Linked DNA regions of Homo sapiens. The protein of the gene in region 1 interacts with the protein of each later gene in a pairwise test. Each region holds a gene or a part of one and is shown on either strand. Other genes may lie near its edges.

What was found. Proteins that work in one complex are often made in the same cells at the same time.
Region 2: the proteins of PTPN7 (region 1) and ROR2 interact in a two-hybrid assay, tested with the Homo sapiens proteins (one study listed by BioGRID and IntAct).

Annotation. Positions count from the first base shown.
Region 1 is NC_000001.11:202,153,921-202,157,669, forward strand, and holds part of PTPN7 (tyrosine-protein phosphatase non-receptor type 7), read right to left. Parts: intron 1,690-3,749; coding exon 1,613-1,689; intron 404-1,612; coding exon 266-403; intron 1-265. UniProt on the Homo sapiens protein: Protein phosphatase that acts preferentially on tyrosine-phosphorylated MAPK1. Plays a role in the regulation of T and B-lymphocyte development and signal transduction.
Region 2 is NC_000009.12:91,943,543-91,947,291, forward strand, and holds part of ROR2 (tyrosine-protein kinase transmembrane receptor ROR2 isoform 1 precursor), read right to left. Parts: intron 1-3,749. UniProt on the Homo sapiens protein: Tyrosine-protein kinase receptor which may be involved in the early formation of the chondrocytes. It seems to be required for cartilage and growth plate development. Phosphorylates YWHAB, leading to induction of osteogenesis and bone formation.

The DNA.
Region 1 (3,749 bases):
TCCTCCACCCCTACTGGATGGGAGGTCAGCAACAGGGAGCCTGGCTCTTCTGAGCTTGATACCTGCAAGCAGAGTGCTCACCCTATCCCGTATTTTGGCCATAGACAGCCTCCCAGGGCTATATCTCAGGGAACTTTCTGAGAGGTATGAGCTGGGGCTGGCTCCCAGGGAAACCTCTGGTTCTGAGCTGCCCTGTGTGTGGGGTGGGGGTGGGGTGGGCATAGCACTTTCTGGGTTCATCATGAACTGTGGCTCTGCCTCCTACCTCCTTGCCCTCTCGGAGCTGAGTGAGCATGACAATGAGGGACACTTCCTCTTGCCACACCATCTCCCAGAAGTCCGACACAGTGTTGGGCATGGGGCCCTGGGTGGCAATGTAGACCTTCTCCTTCCCGTCATAGCCCTGGAAGGTGGAAGCACAGGGGAAGGGGTGGGGAGCAGTGAGAGCAGAGCTCTGGGGAGATCCTAGATGCCTCAGGTGCTGGGGTCAGCCTGAAGCTGTGAACCACACGTGTAGACGTACACATGCACGAACACGCACACTCAGAAGCCACATGATGGAAAGGATACGGGTTCTGGAATGAGGATCAGATCCCTGTTCTGCTGTTTCCTGGCTGTACCACTATAAGCCAGTTACCTAGCCTCCGTAAGCCTCAGTGGTATCATCTGTAAATTGGGCATAATAATATCTATCTTGTAGGAATGTAGAGTGGATTAAATTCAGTAAGATATATTGAGAGTCTAGCCGATAGCAAGTGCTCTATAAATGTTTATTCCCTTCCTCCCCTGCTGCTTTCTTCTAGCACAAAATACCTAAACAGTGTTTAATATTTGTTCAGTGACAGTTTCACATTTACAGGTTACTACTTTTCTATGAAAGTAGTAGCAAAATGTAGCACACTCTCCCTAACCTGATTTTCTCACCTTCAGGATCCTCAGCTTCCTGCTTCTCAAGATGGTGAAATCCAGACTGCAGTTGATCCGGTATTGGCCGGCAAATGTAAGATCATGTTTCCCCATGGCTTCCCTAGCTAAGAGCTTTTCGCCTCCCTGCGCCCCTGACTGATGTCTTACCCACATTGAGTCACTAGAGAGCGCTGCTTTTACATCTCCTTAGGGCCCACAGCAGCGAGAAGCTGGCGTGGAACACCCACCTGGCCTGGAGCTTCCTATAGCTTGACGTCAATCAACCATCTTCATATAAGAGGGGCTATCTGAGGGGCAGTTAAGGTAAGTTGGCGGGGAGGTCCCATTAGTGCTGGCATCACCTATGCAGTTCTCGGGAGCTGTGAGCTCTTAAGCAGCTGGAGATTGGGTTCAACAATGCTAACTTCCTGCTAAGTTTAGAGGGTGGCATGGGAGGACTGATAGTGGAGGTTAGGGAGACTTGGTGGTCTCTCCAGATATTTTTCAACATCTGCTCCGTTTTTTAGGTTGGTGTTTTGGGGCATGTTCAGTACCAGCCCAGCTTGGTAGGGCTATGACAGCAGTGAGCTGGAGCAGGGAGGGTAGGAAATGCAGGCACCTGATCCACCAGCCATGGCTGGAAGATATTCTCAGACGTCTGAGAATTCCCCCATTCCCCGCCCACCACTGCAGCCAGGCCACTCACTCGGATGTAGTTGGCATTGATGTAATCTCCGTCCTCCTGGCTCTGTGCCCGGCCTAGACAGACACGGCTCTGGGGATCTAGGAAATAAAAATCAGCAGAGGTCAGAGGTCAGAAGGTGACCAACTAACACAGACTCAAGCAGGGTCAGAAAGAGGAGAGTTCCTGTGCTCATCACAGTCATAGCACCTTGTGTATAGCAGGTGGCCTTACACCCACTGAAGTTGTTGTTTTTGTTGTTGTTTTTAGAGACAGGGTCTCATTCTGTTGCCTAGGCTGGAGTGCAGTGGTGCGATCATAGCTCACTGTAACCTCTAACTCTTGGGCTCAAGTGATACTTTTGTCTCAGCCTTTGACATAGCTGGGACTATAGGCAAATGCCACCACACCTGGCTTGCTTATTTATTTATTTATTTACGTTTTTTGTAGAGATTGGGTTTCACTTTGTTGCCCAAGCTGGTCTTGAATTTCTGACTTCAAGCAATTCTCCCACCTCAACCTCCCAAAGTGCTGAGATTACATGTGTGAGCCACCATGTCTGGCCCCTATTGAAGTATTTTATACGCAGACAGTAGGAAGCTGTATAATGTTTTTGAGCAGGAGAGTGACATGATCAAAACAATAGTTTGGGAAGATTAACTGAGTGGTGCTGTATAGGATGGACTAGAGAAGAAAGGGAACGGAACAGCAGAGACCAAATGGGAAGATACAATATTAGATATAATATTCTAATAGATACAGTATTCTATCCTTGAGATCAGTACAGGTTTAGAACAAGATTATGCCACTAGGGATGGAAAAAGAGATGTAGAGGAAGAAGAATTTGTTTTCTAATGGTGAATATGGGATTCACATGAGCAACTTGCCAGATATCACATAGCTGTGAAGTGGGACTAGGACTCAGATTCCGCTCAGCCACGAGGCATTTGGCCTCTGCCTCTAAGGGGGAAGGATTTCTCTAAATGAAACCCAAACATGGATGAAGAAGCTGGCTTGTGAGGAAAGGAGAAGAGACTCTCGCTCTGCTCATGCCAGCCTGGTCATGGACAGAAGGTACCCTGGGGACCAGGGGAATCTCAGGCAAAGGAATTTTTCCCTTTTCTGGTGGCTGCAGGGCTGATTAGAATTAGGCCAAGAACAAGGGCTACTCCTCCCCCTGGCCTGGAATAGCGCTAATAGCACCTTGATCCGCCCATGCAGGCAGAGGACACTCCAGGAGGGTTAGCAGGAGACAGGGCCCGAGTGCTCACTGAGCTAAAGCCTCAAGCTGGGAGTAGCTTCCCTGTAGGGAGAGCAGGGGAGGGAGGGAGAGGCTCCGGGGCCTCATGCCTGCCTCCGAAAAATAGAAGGTGCTTGCTCCGGGTCTGCCAGTTTGCAGGGTCACCCCCTCCTAGCACAGTGTCCTCCCTCCCCGCCTCCACTGCTCTCTTGCTGGCCGTTGCCCTGTCTCCATCTGACTTTCTCAAAGCCATCTCTCTGGGAGCCCTCCTGGTGGTGCTTCCTTCACTGCAAGCCTTGGCTGGGCATTTCCCATGCAAGAGGAAGACAGGGAAAGGGGCTTGGTGCAAGTAGCTAAGTTGAATATCTTAGGTAAGATATTCAACTTCTCTGTGCCTTAGTTTCCTCACTTGTAAAATGGTCATCACAGTACCAACTTCATGGGATTGTTGTGAGAAATGAGTGAATATAAAGGATTGAGGCTGGACGCGGTGGCTTACGCCTGTAATCCCAGCACTTTGGGAGGCCGAGGTGGGCGGATCACCTGAGGTCGGGAGTTCGAGACCAGCCTGACCAACATGGAGAAACCCCACCTCTGCTAAAAATACAAAATTAGCCACGCATGGAGGCGCATGCCTGTAATCCCAGCTACTCGGGAGGCTGAGGCAGGAGAATCGCTTGAACCCGGGAGGCGGAGGTTGCAGTGAGCCCAGATTGCGCCATTGCACTCCAGCCTGGGTGACGAGAGTGAAAACTCCGTCTTAAAAAAAAAAAAAAGGATTGAGAACAGGGCCTGGCCCAGGGTACATATCTGCAAACATTATTATTGCTGCTGTTGTGATTCTTGCTCCTTCTTCCCCCTTTCTCTGCTGAGAGAAGATGTGCCAAGCAAGGTTGATCTTCCCTGGCTGAAACTGTGTAC
Region 2 (3,749 bases), on another chromosome or scaffold:
TATCTGTCTAATCTCACAATTCACACAAAGTCATTTCAGAATGGATATACCCACACCACTATGAAAATCAAACCTACTAAGAAGGGTGCCAGTTTTGCTTTCAGGTTGTTGTTTCTCCTGTAGGCTGAGGATACACCGTCAAAGCACTGAGTCCAACATTACGGTTTCTTTTCCCCCATCTGTGTAGTCATGTTACTCATTTGCAACACATTTGCATTTATGTGCTTCTTTGTATTCAATTCTAGTTTCCTGCTATTCTTAGTGATTTATTTTTTGAACTTGTAGAATGTTAGCATGTTCTAAAAGTCAAAAATATACCAAAAAATGAGAATAAACTAATAGAAAGGAAACCACCTCAACATAGTAAAAGCCATATACGACAAGCCCAGCAAACATCACACTCAATGTTAAAAGACTGAAAGCTTTTCCTCCAAGATCAGGAACAAGACAAGAATGCCCATTTTCACCTCTTCTATTCAACACAGTACAGTCATGCGTTGCTCAACGATGACGATACATTCTGGGAAATGTGTCCCTGGGCAATTTCATCATCATATGAACATCATAGAGTGTCCCTCACACAAACTGCACACCTAGGCTATGTGGTGTAGCCTACTTCTCCTAGGCTACAACAAACCTATACAGCATGTGGCTGTACTGAATACTGTAGGCAACTGTAACAGGATGGGAAGCATTTGTGTATCTAACCATATAAAAGGCACAGTCATATACAGTAGTGTTATCTTATGGGACCACTGTCATATAGGTGGTCCATCGTCTGAAAACATCATTATTTGGCCCATGACTGTATTGGAAGTTCCAGGCTGAGCAATTAGGCAAGACCAAAAATAATAAAAGGCATCCAAATTGTAAAGGAAGAAGTAAAATTATGCCTATTTGTAGATGATACGACTTTACATACAGAATAAGAGCTACAAAAATGCTATTTGAGCTAATAAGCAAATTCCACAAGCTTGCAGGTTAGAAAATCAACACACAAAAATGTTACATTTCTGTGCACTAACAGTGGGCAATGTGAAAAGGAAATTTAAAAAACACAATTCCAATTACAACAGCTCGAAAAGAATAAAATACTCAGGAATAGATTTAACTTAAGAGGCAAAAGACTCATACACTAAAAACTAAAAAACATTGCTGAAAGAAATGAAAGGTCTAAATAAATGTTAAGACATCCTGTGTTTATGGACAGGAAGACAATACTGTTAAGATGATGGCCAGTGAGGTGGCTCATGCCTACGATCCCAGGACTGGGGTGGGGGTGGGGAATCCCTTCAGCCCAGGAGTTCAAGACCAGCCTGGGCAACACAAGTGGACCTCCATCTCTACGAAAAAAAATCAAAGAATTAGCCAGGCACGGTAGCGCGTGCCTGTGGTTCCAGCTACTTCAGAGGCTAAGATGGGAGGATAACTTGAGCCCAGGAGGTAGAGGCTTAGCCCAGGAGGTTAAGGCCAGAGGTAGTGAGCCGTGTTTGCACCACTGCACTCCAGCCTGGGTGACAGAGCAAGACCTTAACTCAAAAAAAAAAAAAAAAGTTAATACTACTCAGATCCATCTACCAATTCAATGCAACCTCTACTAAAATCCCAGTGACATTTTTGCATAGCAATTTGTGGCTACTGACACCTGAAATGAAGCCAGTGAAGGGGAGGAAGTGAATCTTTAATTTCTTTTAATTTTAATTAATTTTAACTTATATAGCTGTGTGTGCCTGGTGGCTACTATATTCCACAGCACAAGCCTACAATGAGGAGTTCAGGCCTAAACATTTCCTTATTTTAACTGCCCATTGTGTTAACTATCCCTCCAGGAGGGTGTGGAAACCATTAGGCTAGGAGTATTTGGGATTTAGGGGAACCCTCCCCCACTCCAGGAGGACTTGAAGCAGCCGCCACATTCTCCTCTGATAACATCTAGAAAGTGACAGAGTGCTTACTGAAGCTCATTCCAGCGACAATTAAAGACATACACACCACTTCCCACTAGAACTTAAGGATTTCTAGAGGACCAAGCTACTTAGTCGAATTAAGCTACATTTTTCTGTAATTATTTCCTTCCCTTTAGCTTTTGAGTTTTTTGCTTTTTTCAGAGATAGGACTTAAAAAGAAAACACCCACAGAAATCCCAAAAACAGTGCCAACCACACCAATAAAATTCCCTATTTTGTAAAAGCTTTATGAAAATTCCCAACACTGTTCAACAATTCTTTGGCCACTCTACGAATATGATTTTAAACAGATTACACCCCAGACATATTTTATGACAACTGCACACGCAAGCAAAGCTGTCCCGCCCTCGTTTCCAACTTGGCAAGCTCTTCAACAAAACCAAATAAATACATGCTAGAAAAAGGCGGCTGCTACAAAACCCCGGCCAGTTGCAGCTATAATTAATGGGCTGGAGCGCCTCTTGTTGCTTGGATTTTTACTTTCAAAACTCAAGAAGCCCACACTACCCACTGAAAGCCTCAACAGTGTTATGGTGGTGTTGTGGGGCAAAGCAGAACCTAAGAGCCCAAAGGGTCACTGAGAAGTAATGTTTTCAAAGCCAGTCCCTTCAACCCAACAGTCCCTTCATGAAATTGCTATTGGCCATGCAGCTGGGGTGCAACCAATAAAAATCCAGACCTAGCTAGCAATGCTTCCACTGCAAAACAAAGCCCCCTGGTTTCTTTACTTTGAAACCTTACATGCTTGGTATTCTCCACTTGGTGGTCACCACGGGGCTCCCAAAAAGGAAATATCCTAATGACAATGTATGGAGTCACAACCAATGGGCAAGAGCAAGGAAGAGCCCGCCCCGAGGAGCCCCCAAGGAGGCACCTCAAGGTAAACCCAAAATTGGGCTGCCCAGCCCTTCACCACGTGGAAACCACAAGACGCTGATGGGGTGTGGAAGAGGAGGAGGAGGGAGTCCTTCACAGTGTCCCCTCCAGGTTCCCAGGGAATGAACCAGATAAACACCAAAAGGAAAGGCCTGTCATCAAGGAACCATTTTAGAAGATGGTTATAAACCCTGGGAAGGAGTAACAGTTTGTAGCGTTAACTTTCTTTTCCCTGACTACAATGTGGAATTATATAATTAGAACTCTCCAAGGGAAAGGATTACAAAGAGTACACAAATTTCCAGCACTACAACAGACTAGCCAGGTCCTGCAGATTAGGGAGCTCAAGTCCTTCACATCCAGTTCCCATTTCACTAATAACTTTTCCCATCCTGGCCTCTCAGGGAATGCATTTTAAAGGAGTGCCAGTCCACCAGCTGAAACCTTTCTAAAGGGGATTAATCTTCCCTACCTGTCAGATGAGCTGTTCGTACCCCTGTATTTCTATTCCACTGATTTCAGAAGAGCTTCCAAAGAAAAGAGCAGTGTAAAATTCAGACTCTGCCAGACTTAATCTCTTGGAGGTTAAATCCAGGCTAACTGTTTAAGGGGCAACAAGTGATTCACTGCAAACCACACTTAAGAGAGAGACATACAAACACCAATTACAGCAGCACTTTGAATAAACAATAAAAAAAAGGTTTCACAATAAAAATAAAAATGTTGTTTAACATTGCCTTAAAAATCTGCAGAGCAGTCACCAAAAACTACCCCTGGAAAACGCACATTTTAAAAAACCCATGTTGCTTTTTTACATATAAAATATAAAGCAGACTTGTCAGTTTTCCATGATTTGCTTTACTAATTAAAAGTTCAGCTTGGCTTTCCAGAGCCCTCTCAGTTACA